2 linked regions of the Homo sapiens genome follow. The protein of the gene in region 1 purifies or fractionates together with the protein of each later gene. This does not show direct contact. Each region holds a gene or a part of one and is shown on either strand. Other genes may lie near its edges.

Region 1 (3,652 bases):
TTGCCAGGGCTTATGGTTGACGGGAAGGTAGATAAAGGAACAACATGAGGAAGTTTCTTTTTAGTGATGGAATGGTTCTATGTCCTGGTCGAGGTGGTGGTTATACGAGATTGTGCATATGATGAAGCTTCATAGAACTATGCACATACACACACACAGTAAATGTAAAAACATGTGAAATACAAATAAGATCTATAGTTAATAGTGTTGTACCAATGTCAGTTTCATGGTTTTGATCATTGTAGTGTAGTTATGTAAGATGCTGTTACTGAGAGAAGCTGGGTTTGGGGTACTCAAGAACTCTGCTGTTTCTACATTTTTTTTTTGAACCTAAAATTCCTTCAAAACAGTTAAAACAAAAGACAGTTATGCTACCCTCAGCTTGAATGCCTTACAGTTGTAGGATATGATAAATTTCTCTTCATAGATTTTAGCCTGTAAATTGTTAAGTACAATGAGTTCTGAGATCCTCTCCAAAGAACCAGTGTATCAGTATGTTCAGCTCCCCTGTTCTTTGTTCTTCATTTTAAAGTTTAAATTCCTAGTTCTTTATTTCTCCTTGCCCCCAGTTTCAGTAAACAATCCCCTTCTAGCCTCTATCAACTGCTCTGACCTTAGTCACCCTTGGTCACCTGCTCTGACCTTAGTAATCCTTGGTCATCTGCTCTGTTCTTAGTCATCCTGGATCACCTGTTCTGTAACCGTCCTTCCCGCCAAACTACTCACCCTGCTGCTCTGGCTCATACCCCTGCTCTCTTTAAAATAGCCAGTTGGAATTAGCTTAGACTGCGTGGTCCAACCCTAGCCAATGGGGGAAAGACACAGCAGTAGGGACTAGCTGCGTTAGGATAAGAACCCCTTCCCCTCCCTTGTTCAGGTGTGCTCTTGACATTGCTCCATCTGTGAGACACACCCTTCTATAGAAGTAAAATTGCCTTGCTGAGAAAATTAAATTTATGTTCGAGTGCTATTTCTTTTGTGGCACCGAAAATTTATTTCTAACACAGTGACACTCTGTTCTTTAAAAACCCAAGTTTTTTAACCTGGTTTATGAGGCTGAACACCTTCTGGGCTTCTGTCTGTCCCTCCAGTCCTGATTCTTCTTTCTCTCCCTTCACATGGATTTTATTGAATGTATCTTGTTCTTCCCAGCTCAGTTGGTATATATATTTGCTATATATTCACTTTTTCTGGACTCTGCCTTTCTTCCCTTGCCTAATTAAGTTCTTATCCTTCAAATCTCGGTTTATCTGTGACTTATTTGGGGAACCCTTTCCTTACCTCCAAGTCAAAATCATATTCCTGTCAAACAAAACTGTGTTCTTACCCTCAGAGCACATAATTCAGCTACCATTCATTGTAAATTGGTTTATTATTTGATTGTTTCGTGTACTAGACTGTAAGTATCCTATTTGTTTTTGCTAATCATTGTCATTTCCAAAGGCATCAGTATAGTGCTCGTCAAGCAGTTGACCTTCGCTAAAAACTTATTAAATGAATAAAAATATTAAAAACAAATATAGCATATTTAGAAGTTGGTTCTGTACTTGAGATACACTTCAGGATTTGTAATTTTAAAGAAAGTTTTCTCATATTTTATAATCCATTGTTGTCTATTAGGATGCTGCTATCTAATGGCATTTTTGCTATAGTTAACTTTTCTAAAACCTCAGATATACAATTTATCTGTTACTGGATATGCTTTAAAATGTGAACTAGGAAAATTGTGAATTAATGCTTTTATCAAGTGAAGCACATTTTATTTTATTTTATTGAGACAAGGTCCTGCTTTGTTGCCCAGGCTGGAGTACAGTGGCATTCTCACTGCTCCCTGCAGCCTCAACCTCCTGGGATCAGGTGATCCTCTCACCTCAGCATCCTGAGTTGCTGGGACCATAGGCACATGTCACCCTGCCTGGCTAATTTTTTAATTTTTTTGTAGAGATGGAGTCTTCCTATGGTGCCCAGGCTGGTCTCAAACTCCTGGTCTCAAGGGATCCTCCCACCTCTACCTCCCAAAGTGTAGGTTTACAGCGGTCAGCCACTGTGCCTGGCTTTATTTTTTTTTTATGTTAATGGGGTTATCTTATACACAGTACTTTATGAGAGAAGAGGAAGGGCTTCAAAAATACATTAAATATTTTATTTATTTATTTTTAGAGATCTTGCTCTGTCACGCAGGCTGGAGTGCAGTGGTGCAGTCATAGCTCACTGCAACCTTGAACTCCTGGGTTCAAGGCATCTTCTCATCACAGCCTCCCAAAGTCCTGGGATTTCAGACGTGAGCCACTGTGCCCAGCCTCATTTTTATTTTAAATTTAATAATGACTGAAATTTATATTATTTACTTATTTTATTTTTTAGAAATGAGATCTTGCTATGTTGCCCAGGCTTGTCTACAACTCCTAGCCTCAAATGCTTCCCGTCTTGGCCTCCCAGAGTGCTGGGATTATAGGCATGGGACACCACACCTGGCCCAGACATAACTATCTCTAACATGCATTCATGTGGCAGAAATCAAATTAGTAATTTACTATTTGAAATGTAGTAGATAATTAGTTATATTGTTATTATAACATGAAATTATTTCCCACTTATAAAGTATCTACATGGGAATGTTACAGATTGTTTGATATTAAATATTCTCATAGATTGCTTTCTTAGAAATTTGGACAAACTCTTCGTCTGGAAATAAGTTGCATTATAAACAGTAAAGGTGGACATCTATCTCTTGATGATTTTTTTTTTAGTCGTTCTCTATTCAAGCTTTAAAAATATACTTTTGGTTACTGTGTAATATTTGTTACATTTTTGTGTTTTTATAGTATACCATAATTGAAGAAAAATGATGGAAGAGAGTGGAATAGAGACAACACCACCTGGGACTCCTCCACCAAATCCTGCAGGGCTGGCTGCTACTGCTATGTCTTCTACCCCTGTTCCATTAGGTACATGTAGTTGTCTAACATCTCGTGTGTTTTGAGAATAGTGAAGATACTATCATCTTTTCTCAGAGTCAATTAAGAAAAGAATGCATATATTAAAACTTCTCTATTATTTTTCAGGATGAAAGGAAATAGCCTTTTTAATTTAAAGAATAGAAAGAAAGTCTTGTGTATTTAAAGTAAGAAAACATCAGTGTTTTGCTTTAGGTGGACTTTTGTTCTTTATGTTCATAATTTTACCATCATTTATATTATGGCAGAAATATCCTAAAAAGCATGTGTTAGCTTTGTCTTCTGTTCTTTTTCTTTTTTTTGAGACGGAGTTTCACTTGTCACCCAGGCTGGAGTGCAGTGGTGCGATCTCATCTCACTGCAACCTCCGCCTCCCAGGTTCAAGTGATTCTCCTGCCTCAGCCTCCCAAGTAGCTGCAATTACAGCACTCACCACCATGCTCAGCTAATTTTTGTATTTTTAGTAGAAATGGGATTTCACAATTTTGGCCAGGCTGGTCTCAAACTCCTGACCTCAGGTGATCCACCTGCCTCAGCCTCCCAAAGTCCTGGGATTACAGGTGTGAGCCACTGCGCTCGGCCTACTGCTCTATGACTTTGTGGTGATTAACCTTTCTGAGCCTTCAGGGCATAGGTTTTTATGCTCAAACTAGGGATGAAAAATCGCTTTATTTTATTAAAAATACACCAAAACA
Region 2 (3,652 bases), on another chromosome or scaffold:
TGGCTCATGCCTATAATCCCAGCACTTTGAGAGGCCGAGGCGGGTGGATTACCTGAGGTCGGGAGTTTGAGACCAGCCTGACCAACACAGAGAAACCCCGTCTCTACTAAAAATACAAAATTAGCCGGGTGTGGTGGCGCATGCCTGTAATCTCAGCTACTCAGGAGGCTGAGGCAGGAAAATCGCTTGAACCTGGGAGGCGGAGGTTGCAGTGAGCCGAGATCGTGCCATTGCACTCCAGCCTGGGTAATAAGAGCGAAACTCCGTCTCAAAAAAAAAAAAGTGTTAGTATACAGCACTAGCTTTACAAAAACACAATGAATAAGCATAAATGGAGATACGATAATGTGAGCAACACAAAGCAAGAGTTAGCACTGGCCAGATCTACAGTGGAATAGATACTTCAAAGAACCACAATAAGTTTGCTTGTGTCTGTCAGGAGACCAATAAAAGCGTCACTAAAAGGCTAGACAAGAAGACACAGGAAGACTGAAGATTAAGGTATCTAAGGTTATTCAGCAGAATATAATCAGAGATATAAGAGCTGGAGTAATTTAGTGAAAGTCTTAAATAATTAAACCAAAACACCACAATATGCATAGAAAGATATATTTGCAGAGAGTATAATAGCCTGGTTATTCACCTGATATTTAATAGCCATTAAGTAAGGAGAAAGCAGTTTAAACTAAAGCATGAAGGATTTAATCCAACAAAGACAGCTTTTAAAAACACTGGTAAGGCCAGGTGCCGAGGCTAACGCCTATAATCTCAGCACTTTGCGAGGCCAAGGCGAGAGGATCACTTGAGCTGAGGAGTTCAAGACCAGCCTGGGAAACATAGGGAGATCCCATCTCTACCAGCTACTTGGAAGCTAGGCAACAGAGCAAAACCCTGTCTCAAATAAATTAATTAATTTAATTTAATTAAATATTGGTAAATACCAGAGTGTTTTGCTAATGAGTGCTACAGTTTGTCATCCACTTCATTGAATAAACATTTATAATTAGCTCAATTTAACCATTCCACAGTGTATACATATTTCAAAACAATATGTTGTACATTATATATATATGTATATATAATTTTTTATTTGCCAATTAAAATTTTTTTTTTTAAAAACAGCCATGAGTGCCTTCTCTGCTCCAGGAACATCTACTATAGGAACATCTATTATAACACAGTATGGCAAATAGTATAGAGGCCTGAAAAAGTATTAGAATACAAAAGAATTCAAATTAGATTTGCATGGTATAAAAAAATCCCTCTGGCTCAGGAGTTGATGGTTTGGAAAAAGACAGTATTGGAGAGAGGGATAATAGTTACAAGATCATTTTAGTAATCCATGTGAGAGATGGATGGATTGAACAAAAAGAGTGACAGGAGAATGGAAAGGAGAAAGCAGGTAGGAAAGCTGTTTACAATCACTCCAAAAAGATTTGGGAGACCGATTACATTGGAGGAGATAAAAAGGAGGGAGAGGTTTTTTTGCTTGTTTGTTTGAGAGAGTCTCACTCTGTTCCCCAGGCTGGAGTGCAGTGGCGTGATCTTGGCTCACTGCAACCTCCATCTCCCTGGTTCAAGCGATTCTCATGCCTTAGCCTCCCAAATAGCTGAGATTACAAGCATGTGCCACCATGCCCAGCTAATTTTTATCTTCTATTTTTTTAGTAGAGACCGGGATTCACCATGTTGGCCAGGCTGGTCTCAAACTCCGGGCCTCAAGTGATCCACTTGTCTTGGTCTCCCAAAGTGTTAGGATTACAGGTGTGAGCCACCACACCCCACCAAGTTTTGTTTTTTTGTTTTTTTAATAAAGTTTCTGGTATGGATCACGAAATAAATGATGCTAATGAGTGAGATTTGAAATGCCAGAAAACATAGGCTTCCATGATGAATATGGAATTGTTTTGGGCATGGTGACTGTGACGTGCCTCAACAAAGGTGGGCAACTGGAAATATGGGTCTAGAGCAAGCTTTTCCAACCCACGGCCCACACGCAGCCCAGGACAGCTTTGAATATGGCCCAACACAAATTTGAAAACTTTTTTAATCCATTATGAGATTTTTTTGATTTTTTTTTTTTTTAGCTCATCAGCTATTGTTAGTGTATTTTATGTGTGGCCCATGACAATTCTTCTCCCAGTGTGGCCCAGGAAAGCCAAAAGACTGGATACCCCTGGTCTAGAGCTTAGGGGAGGCATCTGGGCTGGAGAAATAGATCTGAGAGACAAGCACTTTCTGTGAATGATCCAGCTTAGGGAAAAATCTACAGAGTGGGATAACAGTAGTGAAGATGGAACATGGAGGGAGAAACAGCAACACTTAAGAGTCATGTAGAAGAATTCCTTCAAAAGAAATGTCCAGAAAGCAACCCAAAAAAATGGGCACAATGGCTCACACCTATAATTCCAGCACCTTGGGAGGTGGAGGCGGGTGGATCACGTGAGGTCAGGAGTTCGAGACCAACCTGGCCAACATTGTGAAACCCCGTCTCTACTAAAAATACAAAAATTACCCAGGCATGGTGGCGGGCGCCTGTAATCCCAGCTACTCAGGAGGCTGAGGCAGGAGAATCACTAGAACCCAGGAGGCTGAGGCAGGAGAATCACTAGAACCCAGGAGGCGGAGGTTGCAGTGAGCTGAGATCGCAAAACTGCACCCCAACCTGGTCGACAGAGGGAGACTCCACCTCAAAAGACAACAACAAAAGGATAGTGTCATTGAAACCAAAGGAGAAAAGAGTTTTGTAAAAATGAGAGTGGTAAACAGAGTCAAATACAAAAGAGGACAGACAGCACAATGTCTACTGCATTGAGAAATAGGACACTGATAGTCCTGGTGAGGGAAGTGAAAGTGTGGATGGGGTGGCAAACTATGGAGTGTAAACTATGCTGAGCCATGGAGGGAAGGAGAGGTAAAGGTGGAGATTACCAAGCATAGTGAGTACTTTCTCAAGAAGATGCCTGTGAAGAGGGAAGGGTGAATAATATAGAGTGTTATACTTAGGTGTGTATGCAATTTGTTTTTTGCCTTCTTGAGAGATCTGGGTATGAATCCTGGTGCTACTACTTGCTGTCTGTGACCTTAGACAAGTCACATGACACCAGACATTCAGTTTTCCTAGCTGCAAAAATAACTTACTGCATAGCATTGTATGAGGATTAAATAAGACAATACAGGAAAAGCTTTTAGGGCCAGATTTCGACACATCATAAAAAGGAATAATTTATAATTATCATTATAAATAAATGCTGAGGAGAAATGAACCACCAGTTAGAAACTGAAGGGGTTAATGGTTTCTACAGGATCCAGTAAGGCAAGATTACAAACATTCTGGAGAGGATGGTCCTGAACAAGAAGAGGGATGCTTCATCTGGACATCTTTAAAATCTCGGGAAGAATAAATCATAAGACTGACTTTCCACAGGAAATTCACAATCTCAGAGCATCTTCTGCAGCACACTGTGTGTGGCTGCTAACATCAAGCCTCACTAAAGGGAGTCCTCACCCCTTGCTGATTCTGCACTATATACATTCTACCTAGCACAGCCTGGATCCCAGATATCTAAGCTAGTTCCAGTGAGCCCTGAGAGTTACTCATTGATTTATACATGGTCCATTTGTACAAAGAATTGTACAAAGAATTATCCTC

What was found.
Region 2: the proteins of PRRC1 (region 1) and SEC24D purify together in Homo sapiens (affinity purification with mass spectrometry; one large-scale study listed by BioGRID and IntAct). This does not show direct contact.

Annotation. Positions count from the first base shown.
Region 1 is NC_000005.10:127,520,635-127,524,286, forward strand, and holds part of PRRC1 (protein PRRC1), read left to right. Parts: intron 1-2,825; 5' UTR 2,826-2,845; coding exon 2,846-2,948; intron 2,949-3,652. UniProt on the Homo sapiens protein: May act as a regulator of the protein kinase A (PKA) activity during embryonic development.
Region 2 is NC_000004.12:118,829,543-118,833,194, forward strand, and holds part of SEC24D (protein transport protein Sec24D), read right to left. Parts: intron 1-3,652. UniProt on the Homo sapiens protein: Component of the coat protein complex II (COPII) which promotes the formation of transport vesicles from the endoplasmic reticulum (ER).